Linked DNA regions of Homo sapiens: all the other regions are reported to be linked to region 1. The links are microRNA targets in miRTarBase. Many come from high-throughput screens and were not tested one by one. Region 1 holds a microRNA gene; each other region holds the end of a gene's coding sequence.
What was found. Region 1 holds the annotated microRNA hsa-miR-1306-3p (ACGUUGGCUCUGGUGGUG, at 1,367-1,384, opposite strand). A microRNA usually pairs through its seed, bases 2 to 8, with sites in the 3' UTR of a target mRNA and lowers its output. Matches are read on the target gene's strand: a 7mer-m8 pairs with bases 2 to 8, a 7mer-A1 pairs with bases 2 to 7 and ends in A, and an 8mer does both.

Region 2: the mRNA of SEPTIN6 is a reported target of hsa-miR-1306-3p. The part of its 3' UTR that is shown has no 7-base or 8-base seed match.
Region 3: the mRNA of TOMM40 is a reported target of hsa-miR-1306-3p. The part of its 3' UTR that is shown has no 7-base or 8-base seed match.

Annotation. Positions count from the first base shown.
Region 1 is chr22:20,083,496-20,087,495 of GRCh38, reverse strand. MIR1306 (microRNA 1306) reads right to left here and starts at 1,438; the gene lies at 1,354-1,438. DGCR8 (DGCR8 microprocessor complex subunit) reads right to left here. Exons shown (of 14, transcript NM_022720.7): 2 at 813-1,809; 3 at 175-334. The coding sequence starts at 1,532. MIR3618 (microRNA 3618) reads right to left here and starts at 1,750; the gene lies at 1,663-1,750. RefSeq lists an enhancer at 3,714-4,000.
Region 2 is chrX:119,622,033-119,626,199 of GRCh38, forward strand. SEPTIN6 (septin 6) reads right to left here. Exons shown (of 11, transcript NM_145799.4): 10 at 3,303-3,347. The coding sequence ends at 3,344. Among named protein-coding and RNA genes, the nearest start is that of NKRF, 18 kb to the left of the region's middle.
Region 3 is chr19:44,902,891-44,907,054 of GRCh38, forward strand. It overlaps TOMM40 (translocase of outer mitochondrial membrane 40), which reads left to right. Exons shown (of 9, transcript NM_001128917.2): 9 at 140-799. The coding sequence ends at 279. It overlaps APOE (apolipoprotein E), which reads left to right and starts at 2,906. Exons shown (of 4, transcript NM_000041.4): 1 at 2,906-2,951; 2 at 3,712-3,777. The coding sequence starts at 3,735. RefSeq lists enhancers at 2,223-3,025, 3,828-4,164.

The DNA.
Region 1 (4,000 bases):
CAGGACGTCCTCCCATCCTGTGTTTCCCTCCTCAGATATTTCTGTCCTGTCCTCAAACATGCCTCCACCCAGCCCACTACCTGGCACCAGAGCTCTCTCAAAGCATTTCTGCTAAGGAAGCAACCACCCCTCCACTGCCCTGGAACACCCACTGCTTCTGACCCACACACGTACTTTTGAGCACTGTTTTAATCTTGGTCATCATCGGCTGCACACTTGTCTCTCCATCGGACGGATGGTCGCTGTCTCCGCCATATTTTTCCTCTGTTCGCCTCTTTTTGGGGGCACAAAGGCCTTCTTCCAGCAGAGCATCCACATCGTTGTCAAAGTCATCCTGCAAAACACGCTGTTCAGACACCAGAGCCCCTGGCGCTCATGCTCCTGCAACAGGAGAGCTCAACAGCATTCCTGAGAACAGACACAGAAAGGAGGTGCTCTCAGGGGGCCTAGATGTGCCCTTAGGGTGCATGATCATCTGAAAAACAAACAGGATGAAGCTACCAGCTGACACCAACACACCTGGTCCAGGGGCACACACTGCCAAGGAGCGTAACTCAGCAGCACCTGCTGCCCCACGCGCTAGATCAGGGATGCAGGGCCTACCCATGGGCCAAACTTTTCATTAGGAAACTTTAAAAATCTGGACTCCTTACATCTTTCTCTTCTCCACATTAACATTATTCCACCTCAGAGGGGATTTTGGTTTTTGTTTTTTTTTTTTTTAATTTCCCTGCTTTCAAAAGATGCTGCAATTCCCAAATCTCTCTTTGGGTTTTGCTAAGAGCCCTCTAGAGGAGGGGCTGCCAACATACCTCGTAGGGGAAATTCAAGGCCTCTTCATCCACTCTGTCTCTCTGAACGATTGCTTTAGCCGTGAACCCGCCTGCTCCTTCTTCATCTAGCTCCAAATTGTCAGTAAAATCTTCTAACTCATCGAGCACTGCATACTCCACTCTCTTTTCCTGATCCAGCTCATTCTCCTCATCCTTCTTATCAGCACTCTCACCCCCTATGCCTACCCCGTCACCAACACTCCCGCCAAAGGGACAAGCATGCACGTCCCCACTGACAGGGCTAAGGAGCAGACCGCACTCCGCCCGCACGTCGCGCTCTGCTCCTGTGTACAGCACCTTCCTGTCCTTACTCCTGCAGCTCTCGGTAAAGCTCACGCTAATCTTTACATCCTTAAGCAACTTAAGGTCAGGGGAGAACTTCCGGACCGCAGGTGCGTGCCGGGCGGTGCGCGGGCTGTGGCCACTACAGTTCGGGTCTATGAGGAGGCGGCCCTTAGAGAAGGATCCTTTGGAGAGAAGAGAAGCTCCGTAGAAGTTGAAGGGGTCCTCAGCAGGGAGTTCGGACTGTCCATCACCACCAGAGCCAACGTCCATTACCTCTGCACCACTGGACGTTTGCAGGGGAGGTGGTGGAGACTGCTCACGGGGCAGCGCTTGGAAGGGGCGAGCTCGGCTCTCCATCACCGCTTCTCCTGCGGGCCCACACGGGAGCGGAGAGGGGCTCTCATCTGTCTCCATATTAAAAGCGCTTAAGACTAGTTTACAAGACCAGAGTTTTACAAGCCCTCACATAAATCTACACAGCTAACATGCACAAGTCCGCTGAGACCCGGGCGCGTCCTGCCGCGCTGTGCGCTGGCGGCTTAGTCAAGCTGGCCACATTGCTCTTTTCATTAATGTAGACAGCTTTTAGAACCACTGCCTCAATTATTGGAAATCACAATGCACTCAGCTTAAGTGACTGGCGACTAAGCGAGTCTGTCTTCATGCCGGAGTGGCACCTTTCTTCTTCTACCTGCAAAGAAATTTAAAAATATCGTCACAAAATGACAGAAACCTTCCAATTCCCTGGTACCAAGTTAAAAGCCAAGCACTATTAACAGCATAGTAAAGGGCTTCAAAATAATATTCCCTAAGAGGACTTTTTAGGCATCAAAACAAACTAACCTTACTTTTATTCTTCAGAACCTGAATTATAACTTAAGTCCAAAGTTAAATATTTTGTTAATGCCCACTTTAATTCCTACTTCAGAAACACAAAAACTATATAATCATAAGGCTCAAAAAATATTTTAAAAATTTACACTAAACTCCACCACAGCATTCTTCTAACTCAGATAAGCAAGCATGCAGTGGGAGGCACCCTTTCTGGAACACACAGAAGGCGCGTGGCCTCCCTCAGGCCACCAGAGCACAGCAATCCACTCACCTGCAAGGGCTGGGTCAGTCAGAGGGCGAGCGCGAGACCCTCAGCTCAACTCTGCGGCACTAGGGGCCTCAGAGGCATGGCCAGGCGCTCTGCTACCCAGGGACCCCAGGGCTCTCCTGGGCCCACAGGGTAGCACGTGGACGGGGACAGTGATGCAGCGTGCTGAGGTCACCAGAGGTGGCAGCATAGTTCTGTTCCCGATGGAGGAGAGGGGTGGGTGGCTGTGGGGAAGGGACCTGCCAGGATTTGGGGTGGGGAGCCACAAGAGACAGCTGGAGCCGAGGCACAGAGAGGCCTGGGTGCCACCTGCAGCCCGTTCCGCCCTGGGGACAATAAGGAGCCACTGAAGGTGAAGCGACTCTCATGCCACAAGTAGGTTCCTACTTGAGAGGGGAGACCCACAGCTGTGCCAGGCAGAAGCAACTGCATCCAAGGCACGGGGACAGTCCTCCAGGCCAGAGGACAAAGGTGTGAAAGAGGCCCTGGCAATGGGCCAAGAACAGTGTCACAGAACTGACCGCACTTGTTGACCCAACGGAGGTGGATAGCAGAGAAAAGAGGGAACTAAAGACAAGGAAGGACACCCAAATTCCAGCATGCAGGCAGGAGCCTGGCGAGGAGAACAGAGGGGACCTCCAGGCAGGCTCTGAAGGTGCCGAGGCCACAACTCTGGAGCCATGACTGGTCCAGATACGGAAGGCCAGGACGCACTGAGGAGGTAGTCGCCAAACCCACAGGAGGAAGGCCACCCAGAGATGAGGGTTAAGGATGCAACTCTAGGAAGCCTTACTACAGAGGAAGCATGAAGAAAGGGACAACATGAAGCAGGGAAGATGGGTCTGAGGGGGCAGCCAGAAAACCCTGCATCAGAGCAGAAGGAACACATGCAGACACACGCACATGCACACTCCCACAACGTGCACAGGAACACGCATGCATGCACATGCGTGCATACCAGTAAAGATGCACACATGCAAACCGCACTGCATGACCTAACATCCTCCCAAGATTCCCGGAAAGAACAGGAGATGCAGACATCACACATTTAACAAGGGACAAGGCATGGTGGATGTACTTCGAAGGGGACACAACATGAAAACCAGAGACTAGTTTAGGTTTAATCAATACATTTAACAACTATCCACTGGCCATCTACTCCGAGGAACGCACTATATGGACAAGAGACAAGGTCACAGGGCCTGGACACACTGGCAGGTCAATGACCACTGCACTGTCACCCCATTTCCTGGATTCTAAGATGTCCTAACATTTCTGAATCTAATGGGAATTTCACACCGTATGTTCCCAAAGATGTGTCCATCAAAGGTGCTGAGGATCCAGGAAACACAGCACAGAGCTAACAACTGACTATAAAGTGCTGAAGACGCTCAAGAGGCTGTGGGCAGCAACCAGGCAGGCATGAGGAACACTAAGTGGGGTGAGGTCAGTCTCCTGGCAACCAAGAAAGACCATTAGAGAAAACAGACCGAGGGGTCAATGCGCCCAGTGCCACAGATTACAAGGAAGACCAGGGCCACACACCTCAGAACCTGGCAGTCCCATAGAGACCCTGGTGAGTCAATCCATGATTCTGGGACACAAAAAGCTACATGAAGAAGCCACAAGGAGCAGGGGATTAGAGACCAACAGTGGGACGGAATGGGGAAGCCTGCTACCACAGAAGGCGAAGAAGCAGCTAGAGTAGACGTTCCAAGCAAAGGTGCTAATGGGGCCAAGCGGCGGCACTGAAGAAATGCACAGCAGGAAAGCCTGGTGC
Region 2 (4,167 bases), not on the chromosome of region 1:
CAAAAACAAAACAACAACAACAAAAAAAAACACTTTGGAAAGTAATAAAAGCTATACAAATGCTCATATCTTATTTTTATTCTTTGTCTACTTCCTAGGGGAAGAGTAATCTAAAAAACACTGCAATGGCCTATGTTCTAGGTTTCATGGGAAGGCTGACGTATTTTGATGTGTGTATACTATCCATATACTGTGCACTCCTAAGGACCAATAATGATTGAGGTAGAGTATCTGCAACGATGTAGGGGGTCACAAAGGAATCGCTTTTACAAATGCAGAGAGCTATAAGTAGTGCCTCAAGCAATTTCAAAATGTGGAGGCACAGTAAGCCTCACTCTGCCTGCATTCTAGGTGGCCTTCGTGATCCACCCCTTGAATGAGGGCTTTGAGGAGGGGGCGGGTTGCCTTTGCTGCTTTCAGATCCTGGGGAGCCAAAGCCTCCCCTGACTCGTTGGTCTGAAATTGCTTTCGTGGTCTGCCAGGGAGAATCCTGCCAGGAAGAGCCAACCTACTTGGGGTTGGGGTTGGCTGTTCCAGCTGTTTACCAATTGCCTCTCACTTGTAAAGTGTAGCTTTAATTATAGTTTTGCCAGAATTCATTTTAGGAATGGCCACTAACAATGATTTACTTGGGGAAACCTGTAAGCAACTGTGTCAAGCCACGTGCAGTGAAACCTGAATTAACTGAAATCTCATTAACTAGAATACATATTTCCTGCTCACCTCATTAAAAATGGGAGAACAAAGAACATAACACATGAACTGAGTTCCTATTACATGTCAGACACTTCACTACGCACTGGAACTACATACAGTGCAAAGAATGGACAGGCATTCTAGGAACTGACTGTCTTCCTAAATGGAAATCTGCTGTTTAATTCCAGTCAACTAGCAGGGGCTCCAAGACTTGCTGTTAAGCCAGACAGTAAATCAAGTCACTGTTCTTTTAAGATTGTTTCCTTTGGCCCGGTTTCATGGGCCTTATGTTGCAGAAACCTCTATGGACTTCCTCTTCAGGATTTGCTTCCAAGCAGGATGTTTTGCCAGCTGCCCCGAGTCCCCAGTGCAATAGCTGCGGCAATCAGTTTGGTGACTAACAGCAGGCTCTCCATTTAAATCATAAACTACATGGGTGAGTGGGGAAAAGTCTTCTCTATATTTTATATTCCCTGATCCAAACAAACCAAATGTAAAAGGGCATTTATGAGACAACCGGGATGTTTCAAACACTGACTAGACATTTCATGTTAATGAATTATTGTTCATTTTGTAGGTGTGATAATGGTGGGGTTGTGGTTATGTTTTTTTAAAGAATCATTATCTCTTGGAAATATATACTAAAGTATTTACAGATAAAATGATATAGTTTTGCTTTATAATAATTCAGCAGGTCTGTAGTAATTGATGAAACAAGATTAGGCATATGTTTATGGTTGCCTGGGGGCTGAACTGTATTATCCTCTTATTTTGCTCATGTTTGAAAGTTTCCACGGTAAAGTTTAAAAAAAATAATAATAACCCTTCATCGGGCGCGGTGGCTCACGCCTGTAATCTCAGCACTTTGGGAGGCCAAGGTAGGCAGATCACCTGAGGTCAGGAGTTTGAGACCAGCCTGGGCCAACGTGGTGAAACCCGGTCTCTGCTAAAAATACAAAAATTAGCCAGGAATGGTGGCACATGCCTATAATCCCAGCTACTTGGGAGGCTGAGGCATGAGAATTGCTTGAACCCAGGAGGCGGAGGTTGCAGGGAGCTGAGGTTGTGCCACTGCACTCCAGCCTCGGTGACAGAGTGAGACTCCGTCTCAAAAAAAGAAACAAACAAACAAAAAAAACCCTAATTATGTTAAATTAAAAATGTTTGTATTTCCTTTCCATCCACTACCTGAGTCTAGTAGAGGAGATAGAAGGTCCTTAATCCCTGCTTTCAGTCTCCCTATAAACTATGTGAAACTTTATAAACTTCTATTAACACAACATCTAGCACTCAGGAATCCTTACCTGCTGATCTCCTTATAAGAGGTTTTCATGAAGCCAGTACTTGTAGGATTAAATGTAAGGAATTCTCTATAATTTCTAAGATCTCTTCATTTTCCTCCGCTTTTATTATGGGTTTTTTTTTTTTGTTTTTTTTTTTGTTTGTTTGTTTGTTTGTTTTTTTGAGACGGAGTTTCGCTCTTATTGCCCAGGCTGGAGTGCAAAGGTGCGATCTCGGCTCACTGCAACCTCCGCCTCCCAGGTTCAAGCAATTCTCCTGCCTCAGCCTCCCGAGTAGCTGGGATTACAGGCATGCACCACCACGCCCGGCTAATTTTGTATTTTTAGTAGAGACAGGATTTCTCCATGTTGGTCAGGCTGGTCTCGAACTCCCGACCTCAGGTGATCCGCCCGCCTCGGCCTCCCAAAGTGCTAAGATTACAGGCGTGAGCCACTGCTCTCAGCCTTATTATGGTTTTGAGGGGTACAGTCAAAGGAAATTTGAGGACTTGAACCCCTCAGATATGAAACTGCCACCAGCGGGAAACAGAGAAGTGAGTTTCCATTGACTCTGGACATTCTCAAACCTGATGCAGGGGGATGGGAGAGGGTTGATGCTGACTGTGACATTGCAGGACGGAGCTTGTGAAACCCAGTTTCTCTCATCACCACGGTTTCATTAATTTTGAAAATAATGGTTATAGCTCCTTTTGTTTTTGAGATGGAGTTTCGCTCTTGTTGCCCAGGCTAGAGTACAATGGTGCAATCTCGGCTCACTGCAACCTCCGCCTCCCAGGTTCAAGCGATTCTCCTGTGTCAGCCTCCAGAGTAGCTGGGATTACAGGCCTGTGCCACCATGTCCGGCTAATTTTTTGTATTTTTAGTAGAGATGGAGCTTCACCGTGTTAGCCAGGATGGTCTCAATCTTCTGACCTCAGGTGATCTGCCCTCCTCGGCCTACCAAAGTGCTGGGATTACAGGTCTGTGAGCCACTGCGTCCGGCCCGATTATGGCTCTTTAAGAAAAAAACTTCCCACACTGAAACCTCAAATACTGATCACAGGATCCACCTGTGTTACCCAGCTGTTCTAGCAGCAAAAGTCTGAAAACGACCCCTCACTTTAATCAGGCAGGCAGGCAGGCATTCCACATGTACACCTGAAACCACACCAGACTATTTCTGCATATTATAAGTCACGAGAGAAAACCAGCTAGACCAATGAAGCAGCTTCTTCTACGATTAGATGCTTGTGTTGGGGGTGCGGGATTGGGGGAGATATGTTCTAGAAGCCACTGCCAGTTCTATTTAGAGTTAATCAAGCTTACCAGGACCCTGGGTCTCATGCAGCATGCAGCAAACAGCAGAGTTAACTGTAAAACAGTAAGAGCTGATGAAGATGGAGTGAGCATGAGGGGAAATCAAATATTATGACTTGACACAAACAATGAAGGGTTAGAGGTCAAAGGTGATTAGGAGTAGCAGGAAGGGGAAGTGGGAAGGGTGGACTGGTAGGAACCCCTGAAACACTGATACTCTTTTTTTTTTTTTTTTGAGTCAGGGTCTCTCTCTGTTGCCCAGACTGGAGTGCAGTGGCGCAATCATGGCTCACTGCAGCCTCAACCTCCCGGGTTCAAGCAGTTCTCCCACCTCAGTCTCCTGAGTAGCTGGGATTATAGGCAAGTGCCACCAGGCCCAGCTAATGTTTATTTATTTATTTTTTTTGTAGAGACAAAGGTCTCACTATGTTGCCCAGGCTGATCTCAAACTCCTGGACTCAAGCAATCCTTCGCCTTGGCCTCCCAAAGTATTGGGATTACAAGCATGAGCCACCACGGCTGGCCAGTACTTTCTTAATCTCTTTAGGGGCAGCTAAAGGAAATTCTGAATATGTGACTCTTAGATCCAACCACCATCTCTCAAGAAGAAATACTACTACCACCATTTCTGCCCTCAAAACTCACTACCGTGACTATGGGAGGAGGGTAGCACAGGTCTAACGGTGGCTCTTCCAGAAGTTAACAAATTGCTCATGAAATTACATAAGAAGCCAAGATTCAGGGCCACTTCTGCATCTGGAAGTACAGAAGAAGACAGGTCATTCTGTTAGGCCCTTATTGCTAATATAAGGTGCCACATGCCAGCAGGGTTTTCACCCATTTCAGAATTGGAAAGGGGCACTGTCACCAACCC
Region 3 (4,164 bases), not on the chromosome of region 1:
TGGGGTTTCAGGGTGGCAGGAGCAGTGTGGTTAAAGGTCTGGAAGCTGTCGGCATGTGGCTGGTATCCAAGGTGGCCAGGAACTCTGCATGGATATGGTGGGAAGCTGGCACGCCTCTCACCTCAGCTCTTCCCTGCAGGCTCTGTGGATAGCAACTGGATCGTGGGTGCCACGCTGGAGAAGAAGCTCCCACCCCTGCCCCTGACACTGGCCCTTGGGGCCTTCCTGAATCACCGCAAGAACAAGTTTCAGTGTGGCTTTGGCCTCACCATCGGCTGAGCCCTCCTGGCCCCCGCCTTCCACGCCCTTCCGATTCCACCTCCACCTCCACCTCCCCCTGCCACAGAGGGGAGACCTGAGCCCCCCTCCCTTCCCTCCCCCCTTGGGGGTCGGGGGGGACATTGGAAAGGAGGGACCCCGCCACCCCAGCAGCTGAGGAGGGGATTCTGGAACTGAATGGCGCTTCGGGATTCTGAGTAGCAGGGGCAGCATGCCCAGTGGGCCTGGGGTCCCGGGAGGGATTCCGGAATTGAGGGGCACGCAGGATTCTGAGCACCAGGGGCAGAGGCGGCCAGACAACCTCAGGGAGGAGTGTCCTGGCGTCCCCATCCTCCAAAGGGCCTGGGCCCGCCCCGAGGGGGCAGCGAGAGGAGCTTCCCCATCCCCGGTCAGTCCACCCTGCCCCGTCCACTTTCCCATCTCCTCGGTATAAATCATGTTTATAAGTTATGGAAGAACCGGGACATTTTACAGAAAAAAAACAAAAAACAACAAAAAATATACGTGGGAAAAAAAACGATGGGAGGCCTCCGTTTTCTCAAGTGTGTCTGGCCTGTTTTGAGCATTTCATCCGGAGTCTGGCCGCCCTGACCTTCCCCCAGCCGCCTGCAGGGGGCGCCAGAGGGCCGGAGCACGGAAAGCAGCGGATCCTTGATGCTGCCTTAAGTCCGGCTCAGAGGGGCGCAGCGTGGCCTGGGGTCGCTATCTTCCCATCCGGAACATCTGCCCTGCTGGGGGACACTACGGGCCTTCCCTTGCCTGAGGGTAGGGTCTCAAGGTCACTTGCCCCCAGCTTGACCTGGCCGGAGTGGCTATAGAGGACTTTGTCCCTGCAGACTGCAGCAGCAGAGATGACACTGTCTCTGAGTGCAGAGATGGGGGCAGGGAGCTGGGAGAGGGTTCAAGCTACTGGAACAGCTTCAGAACAACTAGGGTACTAGGAACTGCTGTGTCAGGGAGAAGGGGCTCAAGGACTCGCAGGCCTGGGAGGAGGGGCCTAGGCCAGCCATGGGAGTTGGGTCACCTGTGTCTGAGGACTTGGTGCTGTCTGGATTTTGCCAACCTAGGGCTGGGGTCAGCTGATGCCCACCACGACTCCCGAGCCTCCAGGAACTGAAACCCTGTCTGCCCCCAGGGTCTGGGGAAGGAGGCTGCTGAGTAGAACCAACCCCAGGTTACCAACCCCACCTCAGCCACCCCTTGCCAGCCAAAGCAAACAGGCCCGGCCCGGCACTGGGGGTTCCTTCTCGAACCAGGAGTTCAGCCTCCCCTGACCCGCAGAATCTTCTGATCCCACCCGCTCCAGGAGCCAGGAATGAGTCCCAGTCTCTCCCAGTTCTCACTGTGTGGTTTTGCCATTCGTCTTGCTGCTGAACCACGGGTTTCTCCTCTGAAACATCTGGGATTTATAACAGGGCTTAGGAAAGTGACAGCGTCTGAGCGTTCACTGTGGCCTGTCCATTGCTAGCCCTAACATAGGACCGCTGTGTGCCAGGGCTGTCCTCCATGCTCAATACACGTTAGCTTGTCACCAAACATACCCGTGCCGCTGCTTTCCCAGTCTGATGAGCAAAGGAACTTGATGCTCAGAGAGGACAAGTCATTTGCCCAAGGTCACACAGCTGGCAACTGGCAGAGCCAGGATTCACGCCCTGGCAATTTGACTCCAGAATCCTAACCTTAACCCAGAAGCACGGCTTCAAGCCCCTGGAAACCACAATACCTGTGGCAGCCAGGGGGAGGTGCTGGAATCTCATTTCACATGTGGGGAGGGGGCTCCCCTGTGCTCAAGGTCACAACCAAAGAGGAAGCTGTGATTAAAACCCAGGTCCCATTTGCAAAGCCTCGACTTTTAGCAGGTGCATCATACTGTTCCCACCCCTCCCATCCCACTTCTGTCCAGCCGCCTAGCCCCACTTTCTTTTTTTTCTTTTTTTGAGACAGTCTCCCTCTTGCTGAGGCTGGAGTGCAGTGGCGAGATCTCGGCTCACTGTAACCTCCGCCTCCCGGGTTCAAGCGATTCTCCTGCCTCAGCCTCCCAAGTAGCTAGGATTACAGGCGCCCGCCACCACGCCTGGCTAACTTTTGTATTTTTAGTAGAGATGGGGTTTCACCATGTTGGCCAGGCTGGTCTCAAACTCCTGACCTTAAGTGATTCGCCCACTGTGGCCTCCCAAAGTGCTGGGATTACAGGCGTGAGCTACCGCCCCCAGCCCCTCCCATCCCACTTCTGTCCAGCCCCCTAGCCCTACTTTCTTTCTGGGATCCAGGAGTCCAGATCCCCAGCCCCCTCTCCAGATTACATTCATCCAGGCACAGGAAAGGACAGGGTCAGGAAAGGAGGACTCTGGGCGGCAGCCTCCACATTCCCCTTCCACGCTTGGCCCCCAGAATGGAGGAGGGTGTCTGTATTACTGGGCGAGGTGTCCTCCCTTCCTGGGGACTGTGGGGGGTGGTCAAAAGACCTCTATGCCCCACCTCCTTCCTCCCTCTGCCCTGCTGTGCCTGGGGCAGGGGGAGAACAGCCCACCTCGTGACTGGGGGCTGGCCCAGCCCGCCCTATCCCTGGGGGAGGGGGCGGGACAGGGGGAGCCCTATAATTGGACAAGTCTGGGATCCTTGAGTCCTACTCAGCCCCAGCGGAGGTGAAGGACGTCCTTCCCCAGGAGCCGGTGAGAAGCGCAGTCGGGGGCACGGGGATGAGCTCAGGGGCCTCTAGAAAGAGCTGGGACCCTGGGAACCCCTGGCCTCCAGGTAGTCTCAGGAGAGCTACTCGGGGTCGGGCTTGGGGAGAGGAGGAGCGGGGGTGAGGCAAGCAGCAGGGGACTGGACCTGGGAAGGGCTGGGCAGCAGAGACGACCCGACCCGCTAGAAGGTGGGGTGGGGAGAGCAGCTGGACTGGGATGTAAGCCATAGCAGGACTCCACGAGTTGTCACTATCATTTATCGAGCACCTACTGGGTGTCCCCAGTGTCCTCAGATCTCCATAACTGGGGAGCCAGGGGCAGCGACACGGTAGCTAGCCGTCGATTGGAGAACTTTAAAATGAGGACTGAATTAGCTCATAAATGGAACACGGCGCTTAACTGTGAGGTTGGAGCTTAGAATGTGAAGGGAGAATGAGGAATGCGAGACTGGGACTGAGATGGAACCGGCGGTGGGGAGGGGGTGGGGGGATGGAATTTGAACCCCGGGAGAGGAAGATGGAATTTTCTATGGAGGCCGACCTGGGGATGGGGAGATAAGAGAAGACCAGGAGGGAGTTAAATAGGGAATGGGTTGGGGGCGGCTTGGTAAATGTGCTGGGATTAGGCTGTTGCAGATAATGCAACAAGGCTTGGAAGGCTAACCTGGGGTGAGGCCGGGTTGGGGCCGGGCTGGGGGTGGGAGGAGTCCTCACTGGCGGTTGATTGACAGTTTCTCCTTCCCCAGACTGGCCAATCACAGGCAGGAAGATGAAGGTTCTGTGGGCTGCGTTGCTGGTCACATTCCTGGCAGGTATGGGGGCGGGGCTTGCTCGGTTCCCCCCGCTCCTCCCCCTCTCATCCTCACCTCAACCTCCTGGCCCCATTCAGGCAGACCCTGGGCCCCCTCTTCTGAGGCTTCTGTGCTGCTTCCTGGCTCTGAACAGCGATTTGACGCTCTCTGGGCCTCGGTTTCCCCCATCCTTGAGATAGGAGTTAGAAGTTGTTTTGTTGTTGTTGTTTGTTGTTGTTGTTTTGTTTTTTTGAGATGAAGTCTCGCTCTGTCGCCCAGGCTGGAGTGCAGTGGCGGGATCTCGGCTCACTGCAAGCTCCGCCTCCCAGGTCCACGCCATTCTCCTGCCTCAGCCTCCCAAGTAGCTGGGACTACAGGCACATGCCACCACACCCGACTAACTTTTTT